Linked DNA regions of Homo sapiens. The protein of the gene in region 6 purifies or fractionates together with the protein of the main gene of each other region. This does not show direct contact. Each region holds a gene or a part of one and is shown on either strand. Other genes may lie near its edges.

Region 1 (3,500 bases), on a different chromosome or scaffold from region 6:
TTACTTTTTTTGTTGTGAATACGTGGAGCCTTCAAGCTTAGGTCTCCTTGCAGCTCTGGAAGGTACAAATATCACCCTATTAGGTTGTGGAAGGGAAAATAATCTCTTATGCTCTGCTCCTTGATTCTTTTTCTGATTATTCTAATTTACATCTCAAACTCTTAGTCTGTTGCTGTGTTCTGAAAGGTAAACCTCTGATACTGGGCCAACATGAAAAAAAATGAGGGGAAACGCCATGTGTTTTTATTCTCCCTTTTGTGCTACATGACTGGATTTACACATATAAGACTCCCCCACCCAGTGTAAGTCTGTGGAATATTTAGAATTATAGTAGTCATAGCAGAGGGCCATTTTATGCTTTGCTGTCTTCATCACAATAATCATCAAAGCATTTATTATGCACTGGGCATATGTTCCCATGTCAGGTTTGAGCAAATTTTGTGTGGCGCCTCTCATTTAGGAATTTCCAGTTTTGCTAGATACTGATGTAGGTAGTAATATTTGAAATATAATGATGAGCAAATATTAAATTAACATACAAATACGGTTAATAGATAAGAGTTTCTCTTCCTAGGCCATGTGACTGGATTTATACTAGACATAAACTTCCCCCACCCAGCATAATTGTATGAAATATTTAGAATTACAAGCTGGGCACGGCGTTGCACGCCTTTAATCCCATCACTTTGGGAGGCCGAGGCAGGTGGATCCCTGGATCCCAGGAATTTGAGACCAGCCTAGGCAAGATGATGAAACCTTGTCTGTACAAAAAAATACAAAATTAGCCAGATGTGGTGGTGCCCACCTAGATTCCCAGCTACTCATGAGGATCACCTGAGCCCAAGGAGGTTGAGCCTGCAGTGAACTGACATTGCGCCATTGAATTCCAGCCTGGGCACAGAATGAAACCTTGTCTCAAAAGAAAAAATAAAAGAAAAAAATAAGAATTTTATATAATAGTCCTAACACATAAGTATGATTAGTAGATTCACTTAAGCAGGGGTTCCAAGACTTGCACAATAGGGGAATCTGTATCATTACTCTGTTAGGGAAAACTTTACGGAGAAAGTTTTATTTTTTAAGAGTACTTTGTGGCTGGGTGCGGTGGATCATGCCTGTAATCCCAGCACTTTGGGAGGCCAAGGCAGGTGGATCACCTGAGGTCGGGAGTTCAAGACCACCCAGACCAACATGGAGGAACCCCGTCTCTACTAAAAATACAAGATAAGTCGGGCATGATGGCAGCGCCTGTAGTCCCAGCTACTCGGGAGGCTGAGGCAGGAGAATCGCTTGAACCCGGGAGGTGCAGGTTGCAGTAAGCCAAGATCGCGCCATTACACTCCAGCCTGGGCAACAAGAGCGAAACTCTGACTCAAAAAAAAAAAAAAAGTACTTTGAATTATATGAAAAAATTTAAGAGCACATCTTAAGACTATATCAAGATGGAAACAAGGTGATTATTAAAAAAAACTATTGGGGCCCAGCACGGTGGTTCACACCTGTAATCTCAGCACTTTGGGAGGCCAATGCTGGCAGATCACTTGAAGTCGGGAGTTTGAGACCAGCCTGGCCAACATGGTGAAACCCCGACTCTACTAAAAATACAAAAAAAAAGGGCCGGGTGTGGTGGCTCATGCCTGTTATCCCAGCACCTTGGGAGGCTGAGGCGGTTGGATCACTTGAGGTCAGGAGTTCGAGACCAGCCTGGCCAACATGGTGAAACCCCGTTTCTAGTAAAAATATAAAAAATTAGCCGGGCGTGGTGGTGGGCACCTGTAATCTCAGCTACTTGGGAGGCTGAGGCAGGAGAATCGCTTGAACCTGGGAGACTGAGGTTGCAGTGAGCCAGGATTGCGCCATTGCACTCCAGCCTGGGCAACAGGAGCGAAACTCTGTCTCAAAAAACAAACAAAAAAATACAAAAAATAATTAGCCGGGAGTGATGGCAGGTGCAATGGTGGGCATCTCTAATCCCAGCTACTCTGGAGGCTGAGGCAGGAGAATCGCTTGAACCTGGGAGGCGGAGGTTGCAGTGAGCTATCATGCTCCTGCACTCCAGCCTGGGCAACAGAGTGAGACTCCATCTCAAAACAGACGAAGAAACACACACACGAACAAACTTTATTGGAACCGTTTTTTGTCACCAAGTACTGTTAAAATCTCAGTGCTAAAGCAATAAAACAGTTGGGTTTAACTGAGTCTGTCTTCAAGGAATTTATATTGCAATTGAGAGGATAGATATAATTGAAATATGTAAATACTGTAACAACATAGTTTATGAAGAAACAATAAAATTAGTGATATGGATAGTGCTGTGAGCAGACAGAAGTGAGAGAAAAATATAGACTGAAGTGGTTGGGAAAAGTTTGTGGAGAAACTGGGTTTGAAACCTTTGAAAAGGTTGGTGGAAAGGATGGCATGGAGTTATCCATGTGAATAGACAATTAGTTTATCCTATCAGATGTCACGTTTCGAGCTTGCTTTCTAAATGATTCTAAAAAATACACGTATCATGGTACTTAACATTACTGCACTACTTTGGATAGTTCAAATGACAACTAATCATAGTCAAAATGGACCAGCTTTGTTAATTTTCAGTTTATACTGTTATATCAAGTGCTTAGTATATGAGATTTCTGATAATATGCAGGTTTATTGACTCCTAGATGTTCCTATTCAGTTTTAAAACATTTGGGAAATTGTCAGAATATCAACTGTTCATTTCTTAGCTCTCTAGTATTGAATAATTTCACTGAATCATAGTATTTTATAACCATTATAACCTTGTATTATTTGAAAATCTTAAAATATCTTTTACCTGTATTTTTCAAACAGTTTAAGATTGGATTATAATGAGGCCTGAATTTCATTGAAGAAGACAATATATTTTTCTTTATTCAGTAATATTTTATATTCGAGTAATGTGGGGAGAACACTAGAATTATATATTGGATTCAGTTTTTGTTTATATTTTTTTTCCTATTTGTTACCCAAGAACTGTTATTTAAAAAAAATTGCAAGCTAATTTTCAGTCTTTCAACCAAAAACTTTTTTTTTTTTGCTTCTAGACTTAAATCAACTATGTTATTGATGTCAGAGGACCTAACTGGCGAGCAAGCCCTGGCAGTGTTGGGAGCAATGGGAGATATGGAAAGCAGAAACTCATGTCTGATTAAAAGGTATCTTTTCTGAAATTTACGACGTTAAGTTTGTTGTCATTCACAAGCACCTATTTTTTTCTAAGGAAAAATGGTTTTCTTCTTTAATCTACCAGTTGTTTTGAAGAAATAAGGAATTAATGCTTAAGCCACTGTTTATGTTCTACTTTGTTTTTCTTTTCTTTTTTTTTTTGTTTTTTTGAGACAGAGTCTCACTCTGTTGCCCAGGCTGGAGTGCAGTGGCACTATCTCTGCTTACTGCAACCTCTGCTTCCCTGGTTCAAGCAATTCTCTTGCCTCAGCCTCCTGAGTAGCTGGGACTACAGGCGCCCACCACCATGC
Region 2 (3,500 bases), on a different chromosome or scaffold from region 6:
GGTCTAAATAAAATAGTACCTGGAACGTAGGAAATGCTCACTAATTGTTAGCTACTACTATAACCTAGGCTTGTACTGTCCAAATATAGTAGCCACTAGACCATGTGGCTATTTAAATTTAAATTATTAAAAGTTTAAGAAAATTCAATTCCTCAGTCACATTGTAAGTGCTCAGTAGCCACATGTGGCTCATGGCTGCCAAATTGGACAGCACCATTATAAAGATTTCCACATCACAGAAATTTCTCCTGGACAGCACTGACAAGAGACTCCAAGTCCTCCGTCCTTACAGTTCTTCTAACTTGATGAGCAGAAGAAAGCCTTCTCGTAAAGGACAGCAGTTCATAGGCTTCAGATGGTCACTTCTCTTCTCTTTACGAAGGGAACTGCAGTTTACCAGAGGGGAAGGACAGTTCGGAAGCCTTCCGTGCTCGCAGACCAGGTGTCTGGGTGTGGCATGCTTTCTTTACTTACCATGGAGGCACTGCAAGTTGGAATGATGGAAGTTATGAGTTGCACAGATGTCTAATGTCTTAACTCAAGGGTTTTCTTCACAGTCTGGATTGAAGGATCTCTGCCACCTATCATAAGGGGAAAGAGAAAGCATGCATGGTTCTTGTCATACCCCAGATAACTTCAGAACCCATTCTGTGGTTTAGCGTTATTGAGCTTTCTTAATTTAAGGCTGACTTGATTGATCATAAAGCCAATTGAATTAAAATTCTCACCATTGTTTGGTTGTGGTCATTACTTTGCAGCCTTCAGTCCAATTGATCAATGCAAGGTGGAAGGAATCAAAGCAAAGCAAAGGAATGAATACAGGAAGATAGTGTTTGTGAGGGTATCACACGAGGAATTTTTCCTTTCTTCTCTCACCAGATGTTGAAATTAAATTAGATGAAGAAGGATTTGTATTGCCATCCACAGCTAATGAAGATATCCATAAAAGGTACAGGAAAATGTTGTGTTTTTCACATTACAAGACTCGTTGAGGCTAATAAGCAGCGGTATCTTTTTCTCAAGAAGGTGAAAAAAATAGATATGATTCTGGAAATTAAAATACTACATTTCAGAATACCATGTTGGGAAATTCCTTGTAATATTTTATAAACATTAATATTAATAAGATCAAATTCATGATTCATTTGAAAATAATATTGGCACATAGTAATAGCCAAATCCCAAATAAACTTTGGCAACTAAAATATATAATAAATATTTTGGATTATTTAAAAAATTAAGTATTTTTCTCCTTTTTTATTTTTCAGGATAGCACTGTGTATTGATGGTCCAAAAAGGTTTTGCTCCAATAGCAAACACTTACTGGGGAAAGAAGCTATTAAACAAAGACACCTACAGTTACTCGGTTATCAAGTTGTTCAGGTACGGTTTCACCTATTTTTTTTGTTTCCCAAAAGCAAATCCTATTTCAAAATTATTTTTCCAGGTTACTTTTAAAAAGTAATCTGAGGCACAGTAAAATTTTAAAGAATTTGATCAGGCAGCAATTATTGAACTGGACAGCACAAAACTCGAAATGGCTTGGGAACCCAAGAGGGAGGCTTTTATAGGAAGAACACAAGTACACAAAGAATCTACTTGACTGGTTACAGTTACATATTCTTGCTGCCTTGTTTGAACTATTCTGTGGAAAGTTCCTAGTTATATAATTATTAGTTTGTGAGATGCTTCTGATTGGTTGAGCTTAAGTTCTGTTTTTCTGTAGTAGAAGCTTCTACAAGAAATAGCCCAAGTTAAATTTTGCTTAACATTTGCACTTTAAGCAAAGTTAAGGTTATTTTCAAGGCCCAACTGGCTTGGTCTGCTCAGGGATTTTTCAGGCACAGGCTCCATTTTAATTTGCTTTTACAGTACTAACTGGTTTGCCAGCCCAGTGGACCACCGATCTTACGTCTAGTTTAAATCCCAACGTTGTTAATTCGGCTTAAATCTCTTGACTTATATTTTGAAATACAGAATTTTCAGAGCTTTGATTTTTCAAAAGTGGGGCCTACCTATATTCATTATAAGCTATGCTTAACCCTGCTTTTAGAATTACTCAATTGTTGGAATATATGTTCTGTTTTAATTTCTCCTTGATTTAATAAATAAAAATGAACAAGATAATCCATTAAAATAAGGAGCTTCACCAACACTTAATATTTAAGACCTTTTAAATATTTCACTGTAGATAATGTAAGAAGGTCTTATGTGAGGGCTCAGCAGTGCGTGAGAATGAGCGCTGCCCTAATTCTCTAAGCTGTCAGTACTAGGCAGCACTGTGGTTTCATATCTGCTGACTTTTTTCTCCATCTTGCACATCCCCAGCTGAATATTCCTAAAACTAATCATGCCAGTGTCTACTCAGAAGCTTCAATGTTTCTTTACTGCTTACAGAATAAAGTAAAAACTTCTCTACATCTTAACATTCAAGACCCTCCAATGGTTGGCCTGCAGCCAGGCTGCAGGCACATGATTACTACCTGGCCCCTCTGCTCCCAGCTGAGCAGACTCTCTCCTTTGCTGCGCCTCCTGCTCTCTCCCTCTTCATTCCCTCTTTGTCCCTGCTGCGTCCTCCAGCTCTCTGAATACCTACCTTCCAGCAGTTTGTCGGCATCCCCACCCTCATCTAATGAAATGCTCACTCCCTCTTAGCACTAGATCACCAACCTACAGCTTGTTTTTTATATTTATTGTGTAATTTAACTTGCCACCCAAGTTGTGAACTCCTGGAGAACAAGAGATCATGTTTAATTCTTATTTGCATATTCTACATATTAATTCATCAAATATTTACCAAGCCCCTTCTCAGTGCCAGGCACTGTTCTAGACATTGGGGATACAGGATGAAGAAGCTGGTTGGGATATTTGCCTTCCAGGAGCTTACATTCCGCTGTGGGGAAGCGTGTAAGAAACAAACAAAGTAACCAATAGCCAGAGGAACCTCAGATTTTGAAGGATCTTGACCAGTTTTACTTTTCTACCTTTACAGATCCCCTATCATGAGATTGGGATGCTAAAATCAAGACGTGAATTGGTGGAATATTTACAAAGAAAACTGTTTTCTCAAAACACTGTTCATTGGTTGCAAGAATGAATACTGACTTCAGAACTCAAACAATGGAAGAACTTGCATTTTTATGGAACTCAGTATTAAAAGAAAAATATAATGTGAATTAGCCACTTTGCAGAATATGTTCTAGACTGGTGATCTGAAAGCATCTGTAGTTTTCCTTATACTATGTATACATTTATTGTGGTAAAATTTAAAATTAATTTTAATTTAATACTAGTGTCATAGATACTTTTTGTACATCAAACAATTGATCATGTGCTGTAAAGGAATTCAATGAATAAATGTTATTTTTAAGTATTTTGTCATAGTTATCTGCTAAATGAAAATATTTTGCTCTTTAGAGACCTTTTGTTTTCTAACAGATGGAGGAAATTTTTTCTCTTTGTGTGCTGTGAGTGGAAGTGAGATTTACCGTAAGGAAAAG
Region 3 (3,500 bases), on a different chromosome or scaffold from region 6:
ATGTTGTGTAGTTTTTCACCTCTGTCCTTTGGCTTACGTCACCTTCCCAACCTAATACCTGCCCTTCTAGTCTTCTGTGTACTTATCCAAATCTAAACCCTCCTTCCAGGCTTAGCTAGCTTTCCTCCATAGAACTTACAGGCAACTCCTGCCTGCTGTGATTCCTTCTTCCCCCACATTCATGACATTTTTATTCCTCAAATGGCAGCTAGTCCTGCCCTGATGAAGTGACATTTCTTATATAGATTATCTGTTTAACTTTTCTTGTTTTTAGGCCTTATTTTTCCTGTTAGGAGGTAATTTCCTTGAAAGCAGAGTCCATTTTATGCTTCTGTATTCCCTGTTACAGCATCTACATAGAAACTAACACATTAAAGGGTTTCATAAATCTTTGTGGTTTTGTTTTTTGTTTTTTTGTTTGAGACAGAGTTTCGCTCTTGTTGTCCAGGCTGGAGTACGGTGGCGTGATCTCAGCTCACCGCAACCTCCGCTTTCCGGGTTCAAGCGATTCTCCTGCCTCAGCCTCCCGAGTAGCTGGGATTACAGGCATGTGCCACCACGCCCAGCTAATTTTGTCTTTTTAGTAGAGATGGGGTTTCACCATGTTGGTCAGGCTGGTCTGGAACTCCTGACCTTAGATGATCTGCCTGCCTCTGCTTCCCAAAGTGCTGGGATTACAGGTGTGAGCCACTGCACCCGGCAGTCTTTATGTTTTTTATGTGACCACTTCAAATAATGAGTATTAGTACATCACCTGAGGAGGGAGGATCAGGATGATTTACTAAGACTGAGAAAGACATAGAAACTTAGAGCAGATTATACATTATTTAATGTACAAATACATTATATAGATATATATATTTTGCAAATGAGATTGAGTTATTTTCTTAAGACTTTATTGACCATAAGAAGTGAGATGGCTCTTTTTTAAGAAAGATTTTTAGGCTGGCACAATGTTAAAAGAATTTTGATAATTAATGGGGCACTTGTTAAAACACAAATAAATTGAAAACTCTGATCCCCAGCATCAAGGGATATAGTCCAAGACAAGACGTTCATAAATGAAACCACTGGAGAACAGTTACAGGTTAGATAGATAAATGTGATAAGAGGGCAGAAGACTATATAAACAATATTTTAATTCAGTAAAAGTGAAAGATAATTTGATTTGAAATTATGAGAAAAGTCTTGAGCTAACCCTTAAAGGAAATAATTTGAATTGGTAGAATGAAATAAGCAAGGAAGCAAAAACTATAGTACACATATGTGTTACCATTTAGAAATAACCTTCACATGTAATGTCTCACTTGAAAAGATTTTTTTTTTTTAGCCCAGAAATGAGACTAGCTATGACAGTAGGTGGATAGTGTTGTGTGATTTAAGAGTATTGGGAAGATGACTTTTACCTTCCTGAGCACATATGATAGAGAATGTGCCCCTCTACACCATCAGTAGTATTTAGGGTTTGCCTTCTAACACTTGATTGTTTTTCTCTGATTCCTTAACAACCCTGCAGTACAAGTAAACCAAATCAAGGAATCAGATCACTGTTATTTTCCCATTTATTTTCTTTCCTTCTCCATGGACCTGTCATAGAATCAATACTTTTTAGTTGTGGGGAACTTGAATAGGACCTTCCTCTTGCATTTTTATTGAAAAGACAACACAATAATTTTTTTTTCTCGGCACTGTATTGAACACCTAGCACTGATGCATTTAACCCTTGCAACAATTTTATGACATAGATTATTGTTATAAATTATTCCTAGTTTACTGGTTTAGAGAGTTTACAGGTCCAGTGCCACACAGCAGAGAAGCATTAGGACTCCTGTCCCTTGGCTCCTTAAGTGAAGCCTGGTCCCAGAGGCAGCTGGAACATTTTATCCTGGAACAGTGGAACCTTAATATGTTTAGCCTAGTTCCCATTTTTGCCTCTAGTGCAAAGACAGCCCCCATTAGCATTGCCCATTCTTAATTACAGTACTTACTTATCCTTGATTCTGAGTTAAAAAAAAAAAAACCCTGTTATTTCATCACTGTTTCATCCTCTTGTTAGGATTCTGGCCAGGTGCTGTAGCTCATGCCTGTAATCCCAGCACGTTGGGAAGCTGAGGCAGGCAGAACCCTTGAGGCCAGGAGTTGGAGACCAGCCTGGTCAACATGATGAAACCCCATCTCTACCAAAAATACAAAGAAAAAATTAGGCATAGTGGCTGTATTCCCAGCTACTCCGGATGCTGAGGCGTGAGAATCGCTTGAACCTGGGAGGCAGAGGTTGTAGTGAGCCAAGATTGCACTCCAGCCTGGGCGACAGAGCAAGACTCTGTCTCTAATTAATTAATGTAGAATTCTAATAATAATTTAAAAGCTCAGACCTTAATTAAAACTGTTAGCCTTTCAGCAGCAATGAACTGCAGGCCTACCTAGATATGAAAATCTAGCTTTTAGCCCTTCTGCAGGAAAAACAAAAAATTATTTTTCTCTAAACCTGCAATTCTATAGGTCTTTTGTTTTTCTCTTTTTTTTTTTTCTTTTTTTTTTTTTTGAGACAGAGTCTCATTCTGTTACCCAGGCTGGAATGCAGTGGCGCAGTCACGGCTCACTGCATCCTCGAACTCCCTGGGCTCAGGTGATCCTCCCACCTCAGCCTCCTGCACAGCTGGGACTACATACACATGCCACCACGCCCTGCTAATTTTTGTATTTTTTGTAGAGACAGGGTTTCACCATGTTGCCCAGTCTCAAACTCCTAGACTCAAGTTACCCACCTACCTCAGCCTCCCAAAGTGCTTGGATTACAGGCGTGAGCCACTGTGCCCAGCCAGGCCTTTATTTTATACATAGATAACAAATTCTTAGACATTCTATATAATTCCTGGAGCTTACCCCAAAATCGAAGTCTTAAAAATAATGTTTTTAAATCTTGGGACAAGAAAGCAGAATGTATGTGATTACACACAGGTTCACTGACTTTGTATTGGCCAAAATTAAATCAGGCCTATTGCTTAATCACCTTTCATTTATTGCCCCTGAGTATGACTGTTTTAGCAAGTGGTGTACTGCAGGTGTTATACTACCTTATTTCTTCACAGTGTATATATTTGCACACTTGTTTGGTTTGATTTTCTCTCACTTTCAAAAGACATCTGTTTAACCTGCCATTTTAGCCCCAGCACAAAATCATTATTCAGTGAATGAATGAATGCATGTGTGAATGATGAGCCTCATCCCACTTCTAACTTGCTTGAGCATGGGGCATCTCTCTTCACTTTAGTTGTAACAAGTGAAATACTGGGCCTTTGCTCATTCTTTGCCCTATTTCCTTCTTTTTTTTTTTTTTTTTTTTTTTGAGATGGAGTTTCACTCTTGTTGCTCAGGCTGGTGCAATCTCGGCTCACTGCAACCTCCACCTCTTGGGTTCAAGCGATTCTCCTGCTTCAGCCTCCCGAGTAGTTGGGATTACAGATGACCACCACCACGCCTGGCTTGTATTTTTAATA
Region 4 (3,500 bases), on a different chromosome or scaffold from region 6:
AAGAGCTAATTTGACCACTATGTCATCTTTAAAACCACAGCATGCTTGCTAATGCTGTGTTTACAAACGAGACTGATACAAGTTCTAAAACTTCTGACTTTAACTACATCCTATCATTTGCTACATAAACTGCTACAAAGCTAGGAAGAACTTAGATGTTCAACCCACAAATAAAATAACATAGACAATAAAGAATATTTATTATGTTCTTCTACAGTTCCTTACTTAAAACTTCAGTTGCCTTGAATAATATCATCCTATAAGGTGTTACCTACAGATCTTAATTAAATATAACTGTCTTTGTTATTTACTAATATTATGATCACAGAAGTTATGTCATCTTAACTTTAAAATACATACGATAAAATCAAGATATATATAAACACGTATCTTTGTATAAGCAAATCAGTATTCCCAATTAAAAACTGTACCACAGTATGAAAACTCTGCTTTATAATTTACTATTTATGCTGCTTTTTCCAAGTAATAATCAGCTATATTTTTATTTCTTAACAACCAATCTGAAGTCAGATCAAGTCTCCATTCCTTCAATGAAAGGCTATACAAATTTGCACTAAAAACTTTAAGAAAAAATTCAAATGAAATCAGAACCAAATTTCTGAGCAGAACAAAACTGTGGTCTGAAAATAACAAATTTACAAAACATGATGATCAAAAATAAAAAAGGAAATCTTCACCTCTGCCATATTAATAAATCTCAGGCTTAATGAAGCATGTGAAAAGTACAAACCATAAGTTAACTCTTAAGTATGCATTCTTGTGACCAAAAAAGGTAAGAGCCAAAAATTGTTTTCTAAGGTAAACTGACTGCTCTAGTTTTAATAAGACAAGGAAGAAAAACAAACAATAACAACCACAACAAAACACCCAAGCACCTCTGTACGAGATTCTCAAACCACTGCTCAGAAACCTCTAGCATAATTAAAATTTCTGTCTTCAGTACCACAGTGGACTCTGTGAAACTATCAGACATCTCCCACCCTTCATTCTCAATTCACCTCTCCCCCTAAGCACAACTCCCAGCCCGCCATGTCTACCTGACAAGTGACAGCCCAATCTGATTAAATGCTTCCAAGGGAGGGGACTCATGGGCCTCCATGACAGGCCAAAAGTGATCACCATGGAGATACATAATTACAGCTGTCAACGCATCTACTGTCCTGCTGACATCAATTTGATTGCTCCCAGCAATAATGATAGACAAAGCTTAGTGTGCACTCTCCTGCACCCAATCACTTTATCTACTCCTTGGTCCATTTAGCTGACATGCAACATTCACACAAGCAAATAACAGCAGTAAGCAGAACATTTAAGGCATTTTAATTGTTTTTTCTTTCTATGGATGGCTCACAACTGCAAATGTTATTACATAAAACTCCTGCTGCAGCATTAATTGAAGAAAGATTTGGTGGGATGAAGACTGTAGGGGGTATAGTTTGTCCATTATCACTTGTACTTTCAACAGGTCTCACGTTTGAAAATTGCAAATTGCAAAAACTTGCGAGGGCAAAATGTTTGACATCCTGTTAGCTATTACAACATGGTGAAAACTTCTAACAACTAGAGTAATCATTATGAATTCTTATTTAATACTTCTTTTGTTTGATTAAAAAAGTGTTTAGATATGTCCCTATGATACTTGTTTTCTCATGTGCTATTTAACGTCACATAATGCCTGTTAAATCTTCACAATTTTTTTTCTGCCTTCTGGCTTTGAACACAGCATGGAGTCTCCAAGCACAGAAAGGGTCAAGTCCCTTTAGAAAGCACATGGGCAAAAACAATTTAAAAAGTGAAATAAATCATATATCCAATAATATCTTCAGATTTAGAATTCTTCCTGTAATCTTTCACCATCTTCATGCCAGTAATCAAAATGAATAATTTGAATATTCACAGATGGTACAGCCTTGTCATCTACTAGCTAACATAATGTCATATATATATATATATATGCACTTATTACCTTGATTAAGAAAAAGGGTATGTCCTTGCTCTTTTTCTGCAACAAAAACTATTTTCAAAATAGCTATTAAATACAGAAGAGCTATGGAATAAAATGGACAGTGGTCACTTTTATTTAACTGATATAAATATTATTACTCTTTAAAGTCCATGAGGTTTAATAGACTGAGGCACACTTTGTTTGCCTTAATTCAATCTCCTTAAATTTCAATTAAGGAGCTGATTTTGTGCTTGAATTTCTTGACAAGTGACTATATAGCAGGGTTGGACTCGATTTATTGAAAAGATTAAATTGTAACACAAAACATCATTTCTCATTCTTAGGATTCACAGCCTTTTTTATTATAATTTTCGAAAGAATTGGGAACACTGTAAGCTATCATTTATATCATCAGATGTCCCCAGGCTTCCCCTGTCCAGTGAATCCTGACTTTCTTGAACACCACAAAATACTGAAAAAAATTTGTTTTCAACACAAAAACCATGATTCCCATGAATTTCACTTGTCCTTCAATTTACACCCTTTGGTGTTGACATGCTTTAACATAAAAGTATGACATAAATCACGATTTTAACCCTTCAGCTGGTATTACAGCTTAATGACTTACACCAGGTAGATGTAACGGTTCTTGGTACTGAGACAATCTCCCAATAGATGGTAAACCAAAAGACTTGTAGGGGTCCTGAAAGTTCAAAGGAAAGGAAGCACAGTCTTTGAAATATAAATCAGCACAAGTAAGGTTAAATATTTACACAATGAAGAACCATTTATAGGTCTATTTTCAACATATGGTATTTACCAAATCACAGATTTCAGAATATTATTGTCTTTTACGCTAGACAACTTAGAATGTACTTAAAAATCAAACAGAACTGTAAGCAGAATTTAGCCTGACCTTGTTCATACTTTATTGAAATTGGTAAAATTCCAACATTTTATAAAACTTCTTAGAATGCCTTGGGCAAAAAATAAAATAACCTAGGCCCTACATCAAAACATACTCAAGTTTAGAACAACAAATGTGGTATACTAAAGATATTTGTTTTTCTTACTTCTCAAAACAGTTCACATATGGTAAAACTTGAGAATTTGGGTTCTTCAAATAAAGACCTGAAAAAAAAAACTTTGCACGCTACTAGATATGCACTTCATTTGTAAATATCTTAGATCATCAGAATAAACAGGTTCAGTGTCATAAGAATGAAAGTAATACTACTTAAAATATGAAAAAAGCAAGAGCAATACAGTCACGCCAAAACATATTTTTGAACTCCTTGAAAAATATTTCAAACCAGCTCTCAGTATTCTTAAACACAGACACTGATTTATTTTTAATCTTGACAGACATTTTTGATGTCGAAAAGTAAAAATAGTACAAATGTTACCTTGCATTCTTGTTTTAGTCATTTGAAAAAAAGCATTTAGAAGTACTGAACTGAGAGTTTATGAGTAAAACCCAAAATTAAAATTATAAATTAAGAGTACATGTTTTACTAAAAGCTTTACAATTTAA
Region 5 (3,500 bases), on a different chromosome or scaffold from region 6:
GTACTCATATCCTAGATGTACTTTGTTGAAATTAATGTTATATTGTTACAGATGCTCAGAGTGTAGTGGATATTTATGTAAACTATGACTGTGACTTAAATGCAGCCAATATATTTGAAAGACTAGTAAATGATCTATCAAAAATTGCTCAAGGAAGGGGCAGTCAAGAACTTGGTATGAGTAATGTTCAGGTAAGAACTATAAAAACATTTTCAAATTTAAACTTTACCAGGAAAGAGTCATGTGTTTTCCTTAAAAGACCTTTAAAAAAAATTTTGTTTTTGAATTACTTTGTAGGAATTGAGCCTGAGGAAAAAAGGTTTAGAATGCTTAGTGTCGATTTTGAAGTGTATGGTTGAATGGAGTAAGGATCAGTATGTGAATCCCAACTCCCAGACAACTCTTGGTAAGGTGATATTTTGAGCTGTAATTCTTTGTCATTTTAAGTGAATAATACTTTGGAGGATAGTTGCAGCTGCTGTTAAACCAATTTCATGACATATTTATTCATTTAACTGATGAGGAAACATTCTCTGTGAGTTAAATGTCTAGCTTTAAAATTGTGAGATTTTTAACTTAGTTATCCAAACTATTTTTTTCTAAATCTTCTTAGAAATATTTTGATTATGTAAAATGAAGCATATTTATGCAACTTTCTTGTATTATAATTATAGAGGAAACATATAAAAGGCAGTATGTTTTAAGAAGGTTGAATTGTTCATCTGTGTTTGATGTTTACCCTCACTCAGAGAAAAACTCATAGCTGCAGGGCTACACTGGTATTATCGAAAACAATTCCTCATGAGGAGTGAGCTGAGAGCAGAAATCCAGTGGATACTCAGCACTGCAACTGCAAAAAGAACTCCTCCTAATGGTGCAGACTATACACGTACAAATTACAGTGTGTTTTAATATCAAAGTATGTTGTTTACTATGTTACCTAATAGTTATTTTGTATTAAATAGATATCTAAGCAACATTGAAACGCCTTGCCTTATTCAAGAATTTGTTTGCCCTTACACTTTTTTTTTTCTTTGATAGAATAATGTACTCTATCAATTTTTCTTCTTTCAGGTCAGGAAAAACCCTCAGAGCAAGAGATGAGTGAAATCAAACACCCTGAGACAATAAACAGATACGGAAGTTTAAATTCCCTGGAGTCAACATCATCATCAGGAATAGGCAGCTACAGTACACAGATGTCTGGCACTGATAATCCAGAACAATTTGAGGTCCTAAAGCAACAAAAAGAAATAATAGAACAAGGGATAGATTTGTAAGTGTCATAGCTTAAGGAGAAATGTTATTGAATATCTCTCTGCCAGTATAGTGCCACCCCTGCCGTGGGTTTATCACCTTATAATGAGTAAAATGGAGGATAGTTCTCATGGATCTAATTCACGAGGCTCCTATTCAGCCCCCCTTGTTCATTGCAGTCTAGCCCAACTAGATTCCTGTAATGCCCAACCACTCTTGTCATATAAATTAATTTGTCACCATATTATAAGTGCTGTTGATGGGTATCATCTGTGCAATTTTGCACTGTTTAGCTCATGACATCCCCCCATTATATTTTCTAATCATGTGACAACTCAAAACATTTAAAATATGAAACTTCTAATAGCTATCAGTACTCCTTTATAGGTCTTACATTTTTTCCAGCTGGCTTACAAATGTACTATTCTTGTTATTGATTTCATTTTTATATGTTGATGAGGTGATCACCTCTCTTCCAGCCTGGCTAGTGTACCGGATCCTAATCTTGTGAAGTCAGTTTTCCCACTAAGCTTTGTGATACCTGCCTGCTCCTGGACTATTTCCTTTGTGAATGTCACCATGCTGCCTTCCTTTCTCTTGTTGCCCATCTCTTTTTTTCAAAGAGATGCCATAAGGAAAAATGAAATTGTTTGCCGTCTCCATGAATCTAACTATTATAAACTTAAAAATTCCCCTGTGTGCTTACTTGGTTTGCTACTTCTGTAAAGCATTTCTTCCTGATACTTAAGCAGTGCCTTTTAGTGAATGTTCAGGTGTCTTTTTTCTCCAGTGTTAATATGAAAAACAGTTCAACAAAAATGTACACATATTCTATTTTAAAATTACAAAATCTTACCAAATTGCCTCAGGAAATAGCTGTCACTACTGCATTAATTCTAATTGTTCAGTCAATATTTATTAAAGTCTCATCTTTCCAGATATTATGCAAGATCCTGGGGAAACTAGATACATGGAAAAGCCCTTCCTTCTGAGAGGCTCTTGGTCTAGTGTGTGTAAACAAATATGCATATTGAAATTCTGCTGGTCACCCAGTAAACACATATTTGGTACTTGGGACTATTGCCAAGCACCATGAAGGCATTGGTCCTTGTATTCAAGATTGCATTCTAAACATGAGCAATTTTTAAAAATAGTACTGTGTAAATGTTTATAAAAGAGTGTCGTACAGAGTAAGTACTGCCAAGGTACTTATTTTGAAGTACTTGAGAAATGAGAAGGAGTAGTCAGAGGGCTTCGAAGTGGAAGTCTCCCAGTCCTTCTCTCAGCAGCTAGACTTGCTTTCTACTTAATACAGCCATTGATGAGAATGCTTTCATGGAACTGTATTCCTAGTATACTTGTCTACAACTGTTTCATGACACCAGTCTATCCTGTTTCTCTCCTACCTTTTTGACTATGCCGTCTCAGTCTTGTGGGCTGTTTTTTCTTTCTTCCTGCGTGCATCTTAGCATTGCCAGCGTTCTGTTCCTCAGCCCTTTTCCAACATCAGCCCCTTAGTTCTCCTACCCAAAACAAAAGACAAATAGAGAAGCCTGTTATTTTTGTATTTCTTATTTATGGTAGTAACCCCAGCATGCTACTAAATTTATAAGCTAAAATCCTGGGAGTTAGCTTAGATTTTCCCCTCAAAGGATTAGATTCTCGAATCTAATCTGTCACTAAGACTTGTTGATTATACTTCCTAATATCCCTGCAATCTGTACTCTTTTCTCGATCTCCCACCACTATTCTTGCAAATCAAATCATGATTATTTATTTCCTCAACTAGTATAATCTTTCAATTGGCTTACCTTTTTCTTTGGTTTTGTTCATTCTTCAGTCTTTTCCCATGCTTAACTAGAGTAACCTTTCTTGAATGAAAGTCTATTTTTTCCCTCTCTTAGAGAATAAAACCAAAGCTGCTTTGAAGGTATGATAATACCTTCATGATTTGGATCTGCTGGACTCTAAGCTTCATTTCCTGCCACTTTTCTGTCTCACCTCACTTTCCAACAATGCAGAACTATTTATTATATAATACTGTCTTGTGCTTTTGTGTTTTAGTATGGCTTCTTCCTCTCTTGCATGTTTTTTCTTATTGTTTATAAAAGATATAATTGTTCTTCAAAATAGTTCCAGAGTCACCTTTCCCAGGAAATATATTATGACCATCTAAGTTAGTTACTTCTACTGTGTTATTTTCTTACCTTGTGAATACATCTATTTGTCACAGTTTTAGTATT
Region 6 (3,500 bases):
ATTAACCATCCCCTTTTCCCCCACCCCACCCATTACCCTTTCCAGCCTCTGGTAACCATCATTCTACTCTCTATCTCCATGAGTTCAGTTATTTTAATTTTTAATTTCCACAAATAAGTGAGAAGGTACAAAGTTTGTCTTTCTGTGCCTGGCTTATTTCACTTCACATGATGACCTCCGGTTGCATCCAGGTTGTTACAGATGACTGGATCTCATTCTTTTTTACAGCTGAATAGTACTCTATTGTGTACATGTACCATGTTTTCTTTATCCATTCATATGTTGATGGCCACTTGGGTTGCCTGCAAACCTTAGCTGTTGTGAACAGTGCTAGAATGGATGTGGGAGAGCAGATCGCTTCGATATACTGATTTTCTTTCTTTGGGGTATATATCTAGCAGTTGGATTGCAAGATCATATGGTGGCTCTGTTTTTAGTTTTTTGAGGATCCAAACTTTTCTCCATCTTGGTTCTACTAATTTACATTCTCACCAGCAGTGTATGAGGGTTCCCTTTTCTCCACATCCTCACCAGCATTTGTTATTGCCTATCTTTTGGATAAGAGCCATTTTCACTGGGGTGAGATGACATCTCATTGTAGTTTTGATTTGCATTTCTCTTATGATCAGTGGTGTTGAGCACCTTTTCATAGACCTGTATGCCATTTTATGTCTTCTTTTGAGAAATGTCTGTTCAGATCTTTTGCATTTAATTTTTTTAATCAAATTATTAGATTTTTAAAATCAAATTATTAGATATTTTACTGTTGAGTTGTTTGAGCTTCTTCTATGTTCTGGTTGTTAATCCCTTGTCGGATGGATGGTTTGCAAACGTTTTCTCTCATTCTGTGGGTTGTCTCTTCACTTTGTTGATTGTTTCCTTTGCTGTGCAGAAGCATTTTAACTTGATGTAATCCCATTTGTCCAGTTTTGTTTTGGTTGCCTGTGGTTTGGCGTATTACTCAAGGAATCTTTGCCCAGACCAACGTCCTGGAGAGTTTCCCAGTGATTTCTTTTAGTGGTTTCAAAGTTTGATGCCTTAGATTTAAGTCCTTAATCCATTTTGATGTGATTGCTGTACATTGCAAGAGATAGGAGTCTAGTTTCATTGTTCTGCATATAGATACCCAGTTTTCCTAGCACCATTTATTGAAGACACTGTCCTTTCCTCAATGTATGTTCTTGGCACCTTTGAATTTCTGCATTTTAAAAAAGAACTTGGCTGGAGTGGTGACTCACACCTGTAATCCCAGGACTGTCAGAAGCCAAGGTGGAATGATTGCATGAACCCGGGAGTTTGAGATCAGCCTGGGCAACATAGCAAGACCCTATCTCTACAAAAAATTTAAAAATTAGCTAGCCATGGTGACGTGTACCTGTGGTCCCAGCTACCACATGCAAGCTGAGGTGGGATGATTGCTTGAGCCTAAGAGGTCAAGGCTGCAATGAGCTATGATTGTGCCGTTGCACTCCAGCCTGGGTGATAGAGTGAGACTCCGTTTCTAAAAGACATCAATCAATAAGAGCTTGTTTAAGCCAAAACAGGGACCCTGAATTCAAGAATTACAGGTGCTAGGCATATAACCTAATGAGCAAAGCAAGCTAGTAAAAAAAAAAAAATTGTTTTCATTGAAACAAGCAGTCCTAAATTTTTATTTTACCAGTTTTGATGAAGATCAAAATATGTCTTCATCAAAAATTAAAGACAAGAAAGATTTCAATTCCCATTCAATCTAATAAGAAAAATATTAAAGTAAGCACAAAGTAATGAAGCAACTGAGAAGGACTCAGAAATTGGGAGACAAAAGGGAGGGACAGGAGAGTGCTCATCTCCCTAGGAGTTAGCTCTGCAGATGGTGCAAATGGCAGGGCTGGTGTCTAGCCCCGGGGATTATCAGTGTCTTTTATGGCATTTATTTGGGATGGTCCAATGTCCATTCTCAGTGACTTCCCTTCTGTGCCAGTTGTTCAATATTTTTTTTTTCTTTGTTTTTAGACGGGGTCTCACTCTGTTGCCCAGGCTGGAGTGCAGTGACACGATCTTGGCTCACTGCAACCTCCGCCTCTTGGGTTCAAGCGATTCTCTTGCCTCAGTCCCCCGAGTAGCTGGGACTACAGGTGCATGCCACCACGCCCGGCTAATTTTTTGTATTTTTAGTAGAGATGGGGTTTCACCATGTTAGCCAGGATGGTCTCGATCTCCTGACCTCGTGATCCACCTGCCTCGGCCTCCCAAAGTGCTGGAATAACAGGCACAGTTGCTCAATATTTTACATGTCCCCTCAATCAGGTGGTAAGGAGAGGGTGGTATTGCCAGATCTTCTGATTGTTCCAGATAAGGCAGAAATCTAGATCTTTCCAGAAAAGCACTTTTTTTAATGTTGGCAACACATTTTTAAAAATTTGAGGGCCGGGCACAGTGGCTCACACCTGTAATCCCAGCACTTTGGGAGGCCGAGGTGGGTGGATCACCTGAGGCCAAGAGTTCAAGACCAGCCTGGCCAACATGGCAAGACCCTGTCTCTACTAAAAATACAAAAATTAGCTGGACGTGGTGGCGCATTCCTGTAATCCCAGCTACTAGGGAGGCTGAGGCAGGAGAATCGCTTGAACCCAGGAGACGGAAGTTGCAGTGAGCCGAGATTGTGCCATTGCACTCCAGCCTGGGCAACAAGAGCAAAACTCTGTCTCAAAAAAAAAAAAAAAAAAAAAATTTGAGCACCATGCTGGCCAAAAAACATACAACTGAAGGCCAGATTTGGCCTGTGGATTCTGACCCTGTGACTTCTGCCCTAATGGGTGTATTGTATGAAGTGTATTTAGGTAAGAAAGCCTTCTAGATTTTTCCAAAAGAGAAATGGACTCAACCATTCAGTCAGTCGCTTTTGAAATGTTGCTGCTTTCTAAACCAGCACTTCTCAACAGCAACAGTATTAACATTTGAGGCCAGATAAGTCTTTGTGTGGGGACTACCTTGTGCCTTGAAAAATGCTCAGCAGCATTTCTGGCCTCTATCTCCAAGATGTCAGGAGCAACTGCCCACCCCAGTCTGACAACTCAAAATGTCTCCAGACATTGTCAAATGTCTCCTAGGAGGCAAAAATCATGTGCAGTTGAAAACCACAGCTCTAGAGAAAAAGAGAACCTTAGAAAATGTGAGTTTATTCATTATAATATAATAGATGTTATGAGAGCTAAGTTGTAGAATGATAAATGGATGTTGATTAGGCCTGATTTATCAACTCGTTTATTAGTAAGAATTTACTGAGCACCTACTTTGTCCCTAACAATGAGCTTGGCTATGAAAGAAAAATAACAGAAATATAGGCTATAGTTCCCGCTTTCAATCTGTAGGGTTTTGTTTGTTTGTTTGTTTTTGAGACCAGGTTTTGCTCTTGTCGCCCAGGCTGGAGTGCAATGACATGATTTCGGCTCACTGCAAACTCTGCCTCCTGGGTTCAAGTGATTCTCCTGCCTCAGCCTCTCGAGTAGCTGGGATTA
Region 7 (2,675 bases), on a different chromosome or scaffold from region 6:
CTAGTGTGTATCATAATCCTTTGGGGGAGCTTGCAGAAGCACAGACATTTGGCTGCAGTCCCAGAGATTCTTAGCTAATTCTGTAGCTGGAATGGGGCTCAATAATTTGTATTAAAAAATTGTTTTTTTTGGCCAGACACGTGGCTCACGCCTGTAATCCAAGCCCTTTGGGAGGCTGAGGCAGGTGGATCACCTGAGGTCAGGAGTTCAAGACCAGCCTGGCCAATATAGTGAAACCCCATCTCTACTCAGCTCCTGCTGAGCTCTGGGGCTCTCAGGTTCTGAGTCTAGTTTGGGACTGACTGTCACCTTGTCTCCACAGATCTCTTTTGACGTAAAAAGTTAGCTGGCTGTGGTGGCAGGTGCCTGTAATCCCAGCTACTAGGGAGGCTGAGGCAGGAGAATCACTTGAACCCAGGAGGCAGAGGTTGCAGTGAGCCGAGATTGCGCCATTGCACTCCAGCCTGGGTGACAAGAGCAAAACTCTGTCTCAAAAAAAAAATTTTTTTTGTGGAGATGGGTGTCTTTGTTGCCCAGGCTGGTTGTAAACTCATCGTTTCAAGTGATCCTCCCATCTTGGCCTCCTAAAGTGCTGGGGTTACGGGTGTGAGCCACTGCATCTGGCCTACAGTCTGCATTTTAAACAAGCATCGTGGGTAATTAAGATGCATGTAGTCCTTTCCCTGCACTTTCAGAACCAGTAGCTTAGAAGTTGTTAGGCAAATCCAAGTTCTGAAGCTTGACTATTTTGAGATGGTTCGGAATCGATCTGAATGGGCAGAAAGACCTGAAGTTAGTTCTTGGGTCACTTCTATCTCTACTTGCCTTGCTTTCTGCTGAACTTTTAGTTTTGCTAGGTGAGATTCCTTCATTTGACACTATTCAATATATATTGAATTCCAAGCACTGCTAGGCCTTGGGGATAGTGGAAAAAAGGGAAGGTCCTTGTTCTTACCCTAGTGGATGAGATCCAGGCCCAGTCCTCCCTAATGTCTGTATACTGGGCCTAATCTTTGGATGCAGTATCCCTCTTCCTTAACCCATTTATGTGAGGTTCCCTTTGCTCGTTATCTGGCCATGAATAAGGTGAAGAAGATGAAACGTTATCATGTTGGAAAGGTGTGGCGGCGAGAGAGCCCAACCATAGTCCAAGGCCGTTATAGGGAGTTCTGCCAGTGTGTAAGTGACCTGATGGGAGCAGCACAGTTTGATAGTTCTAGGGGCCACAACCTTGAAACTGGCTGGATAATGGATGTTTTTTCCCATCTTTTTCTTTGCTGTAGGATTTTGACATTGCTGGTCAGTTTGACCCTATGATCCCCGATGCAGAGTGTTTGAAGATCATGTGTGAAATCCTAAGTGGATTGCAGTTGGGAGACTTTCTCATTAAGGTGAGGCCAGGGCTGAGAACTGTGGGAGAAGTCTGGATTTGGCCTAATACTGTTTATGCAAGTCCCAAACTTGGGTGACTCCAACCCTTAAGCCTGCAACTGTAGGACTTTCCTAGTAAAGCTGTTGTATTTCCTATATGTCTGTACTCTTCCTGTGAAATTTCCATCCTTTTTGTGTGTCAGGAAAGTAGGTACTGCCATTGTTTTGAGTGGAAGGGCATTGACAAGCACTTGGGTCACTGACATTGAGTTCTCAGGTAAATGACCGGCGGATTGTGGATGGGATGTTTGCTGTCTGTGGTGTTCCTGAAAGCAAGTTCCGTGCCATCTGCTCCTCCATAGATAAACTAGACAAGGTAACAAAGAAGACATACTTCAGTAGACCCTATCTAGCTTCTGCCCTGCCCTCAAATCCATACCACTAGTGAAAAATAAGGAGATTGTGGCTGGAAGTGGGCTATTTTGGGGTGGAAGGTAAGGAGGCATACTCTGAAGGAAGATCTGAGTCATGCTATACAGTGGGGATTGTGACTGGATTTCTTAAGCTGTCTCTGACTTTGCTGAGTATACAGTTAGCTACTTGTGATGTATATACTGAATGGAAGTTGAGTTGTCCTTTTTCAGTTTGAGAAAGAAAGATCTTGGGGCTGGGCTAATGTTTGGGTGTTTATGCAGATGGCTTGGAAAGATGTGAGACATGAGATGGTGGTGAAGAAAGGCCTGGCTCCTGAGGTGGCTGATCGAATTGGGGACTATGTCCAGTGTCATGGTAAGAACCAGGGTTTTCAGAGCTGTGATAGAACCAGGCTGAAGGTGACATGTGCTCAAATTCTACCTCTGAAACAACTCTTTTCTGTAGATATGCTAAGCTCCAGGGCCTGTCCTGAATTTAATTTCTCTTTTACTTATTGTAACGACTTTGTGTCTTCAGATGGCAAAGCTAGAGGCAAAGGAGGAGGGTCTTGTCATGTGAGACTGGGATCTTTTTTTTTTTTTTTTTTTTTTAAAGAAAATGAGGAAGACTAGCTAGAGCACATTAGGGATAATTTTGAATGAAACACATGTGAGTGAACAGCAGAGACTTTATTTCTCTCCAGGTGGGGTATCCCTAGTAGAGCAAATGTTTCAGGATCCCAGACTATCCCAGAACAAGCAGGCCCTGGAGGGCCTGGGAGACCTAAAGCTGCTATTTGAATACCTGACTTTATTTGGAATTGCTGATAAGGTAAGCTGAATTGCAAATGGACCTCCTGCTGAGCTCTAGGGCTCTCAGGGTCCCGAGTC

What was found.
Region 1: the proteins of LAMP3 (region 6) and FASTKD1 purify together in Homo sapiens (affinity purification with mass spectrometry; 2 studies listed by BioGRID and IntAct, with this or other methods). This does not show direct contact.
Region 2: the proteins of LAMP3 (region 6) and FASTKD3 purify together in Homo sapiens (affinity purification with mass spectrometry; 2 studies listed by BioGRID and IntAct, with this or other methods). This does not show direct contact.
Region 3: the proteins of LAMP3 (region 6) and MARCHF5 purify together in Homo sapiens (affinity purification with mass spectrometry; 2 studies listed by BioGRID and IntAct, with this or other methods). This does not show direct contact.
Region 4: the proteins of LAMP3 (region 6) and PCCA purify together in Homo sapiens (affinity purification with mass spectrometry; 2 studies listed by BioGRID and IntAct, with this or other methods). This does not show direct contact.
Region 5: the proteins of LAMP3 (region 6) and ARFGEF1 purify together in Homo sapiens (affinity purification with mass spectrometry; 2 studies listed by BioGRID and IntAct, with this or other methods). This does not show direct contact.
Region 7: the proteins of LAMP3 (region 6) and HARS2 purify together in Homo sapiens (affinity purification with mass spectrometry; 2 studies listed by BioGRID and IntAct, with this or other methods). This does not show direct contact.

The regions. Positions count from the first base shown.
Region 1 is NC_000002.12:169,556,866-169,560,365, reverse strand, and holds part of FASTKD1 (FAST kinase domain-containing protein 1, mitochondrial), read left to right. Parts: exon of another isoform or gene 1-1,442; coding exon of another isoform or gene 1,443-1,453; intron 1,454-3,068; coding exon 3,069-3,179; intron 3,180-3,500. UniProt on the Homo sapiens protein: Involved in the down-regulation of mitochondrial MT-ND3 mRNA levels which leads to decreased respiratory complex I abundance and activity.
Region 2 is NC_000005.10:7,859,032-7,862,531, reverse strand, and holds the end of FASTKD3 (FAST kinase domain-containing protein 3, mitochondrial), read left to right. Parts: intron 1-474; exon of another isoform or gene 475-581; intron 582-728; exon of another isoform or gene 729-758; coding exon of another isoform or gene 759-879; coding exon 880-949; exon of another isoform or gene 950-1,047; intron 1,048-1,268; coding exon 1,269-1,383; intron 1,384-2,992; coding exon 2,993-3,097; 3' UTR 3,098-3,373; downstream 3,374-3,500. UniProt on the Homo sapiens protein: Required for normal mitochondrial respiration. Increases steady-state levels and half-lives of a subset of mature mitochondrial mRNAs MT-ND2, MT-ND3, MT-CYTB, MT-CO2, and MT-ATP8/6.
Region 3 is NC_000010.11:92,343,167-92,346,666, forward strand, and holds part of MARCHF5 (E3 ubiquitin-protein ligase MARCHF5), read left to right. Parts: intron 1-3,500. UniProt on the Homo sapiens protein: Mitochondrial E3 ubiquitin-protein ligase that plays a crucial role in the control of mitochondrial morphology by acting as a positive regulator of mitochondrial fission and as an important regulator of immune response.
Region 4 is NC_000013.11:100,302,093-100,305,592, reverse strand, and holds part of PCCA (propionyl-CoA carboxylase alpha chain, mitochondrial isoform a precursor), read right to left. Parts: intron 2,670-3,500; coding exon 2,595-2,669; intron 1-2,594. UniProt on the Homo sapiens protein: This is one of the 2 subunits of the biotin-dependent propionyl-CoA carboxylase (PCC), a mitochondrial enzyme involved in the catabolism of odd chain fatty acids, branched-chain amino acids isoleucine, threonine, methionine, and valine and other metabolites.
Region 5 is NC_000008.11:67,263,782-67,267,281, reverse strand, and holds part of ARFGEF1 (brefeldin A-inhibited guanine nucleotide-exchange protein 1), read left to right. Parts: intron 1-51; coding exon 52-191; intron 192-297; coding exon 298-406; intron 407-1,074; coding exon 1,075-1,276; intron 1,277-3,500. UniProt on the Homo sapiens protein: Promotes guanine-nucleotide exchange on ARF1 and ARF3. Promotes the activation of ARF1/ARF3 through replacement of GDP with GTP. Involved in vesicular trafficking.
Region 6 is NC_000003.12:183,145,735-183,149,234, reverse strand, and holds part of LAMP3 (lysosome-associated membrane glycoprotein 3 precursor), read left to right. Parts: intron 1-3,500. UniProt on the Homo sapiens protein: Lysosomal membrane glycoprotein which plays a role in the unfolded protein response (UPR) that contributes to protein degradation and cell survival during proteasomal dysfunction.
Region 7 is NC_000005.10:140,694,455-140,697,129, forward strand, and holds part of HARS2 (histidine--tRNA ligase, mitochondrial isoform 1 precursor), read left to right. Parts: intron 1-1,053; coding exon 1,054-1,179; intron 1,180-1,283; coding exon 1,284-1,391; intron 1,392-1,648; coding exon 1,649-1,747; intron 1,748-2,066; coding exon 2,067-2,160; intron 2,161-2,488; coding exon 2,489-2,616; intron 2,617-2,675. UniProt on the Homo sapiens protein: Mitochondrial aminoacyl-tRNA synthetase that catalyzes the ATP-dependent ligation of histidine to the 3'-end of its cognate tRNA, via the formation of an aminoacyl-adenylate intermediate (His-AMP).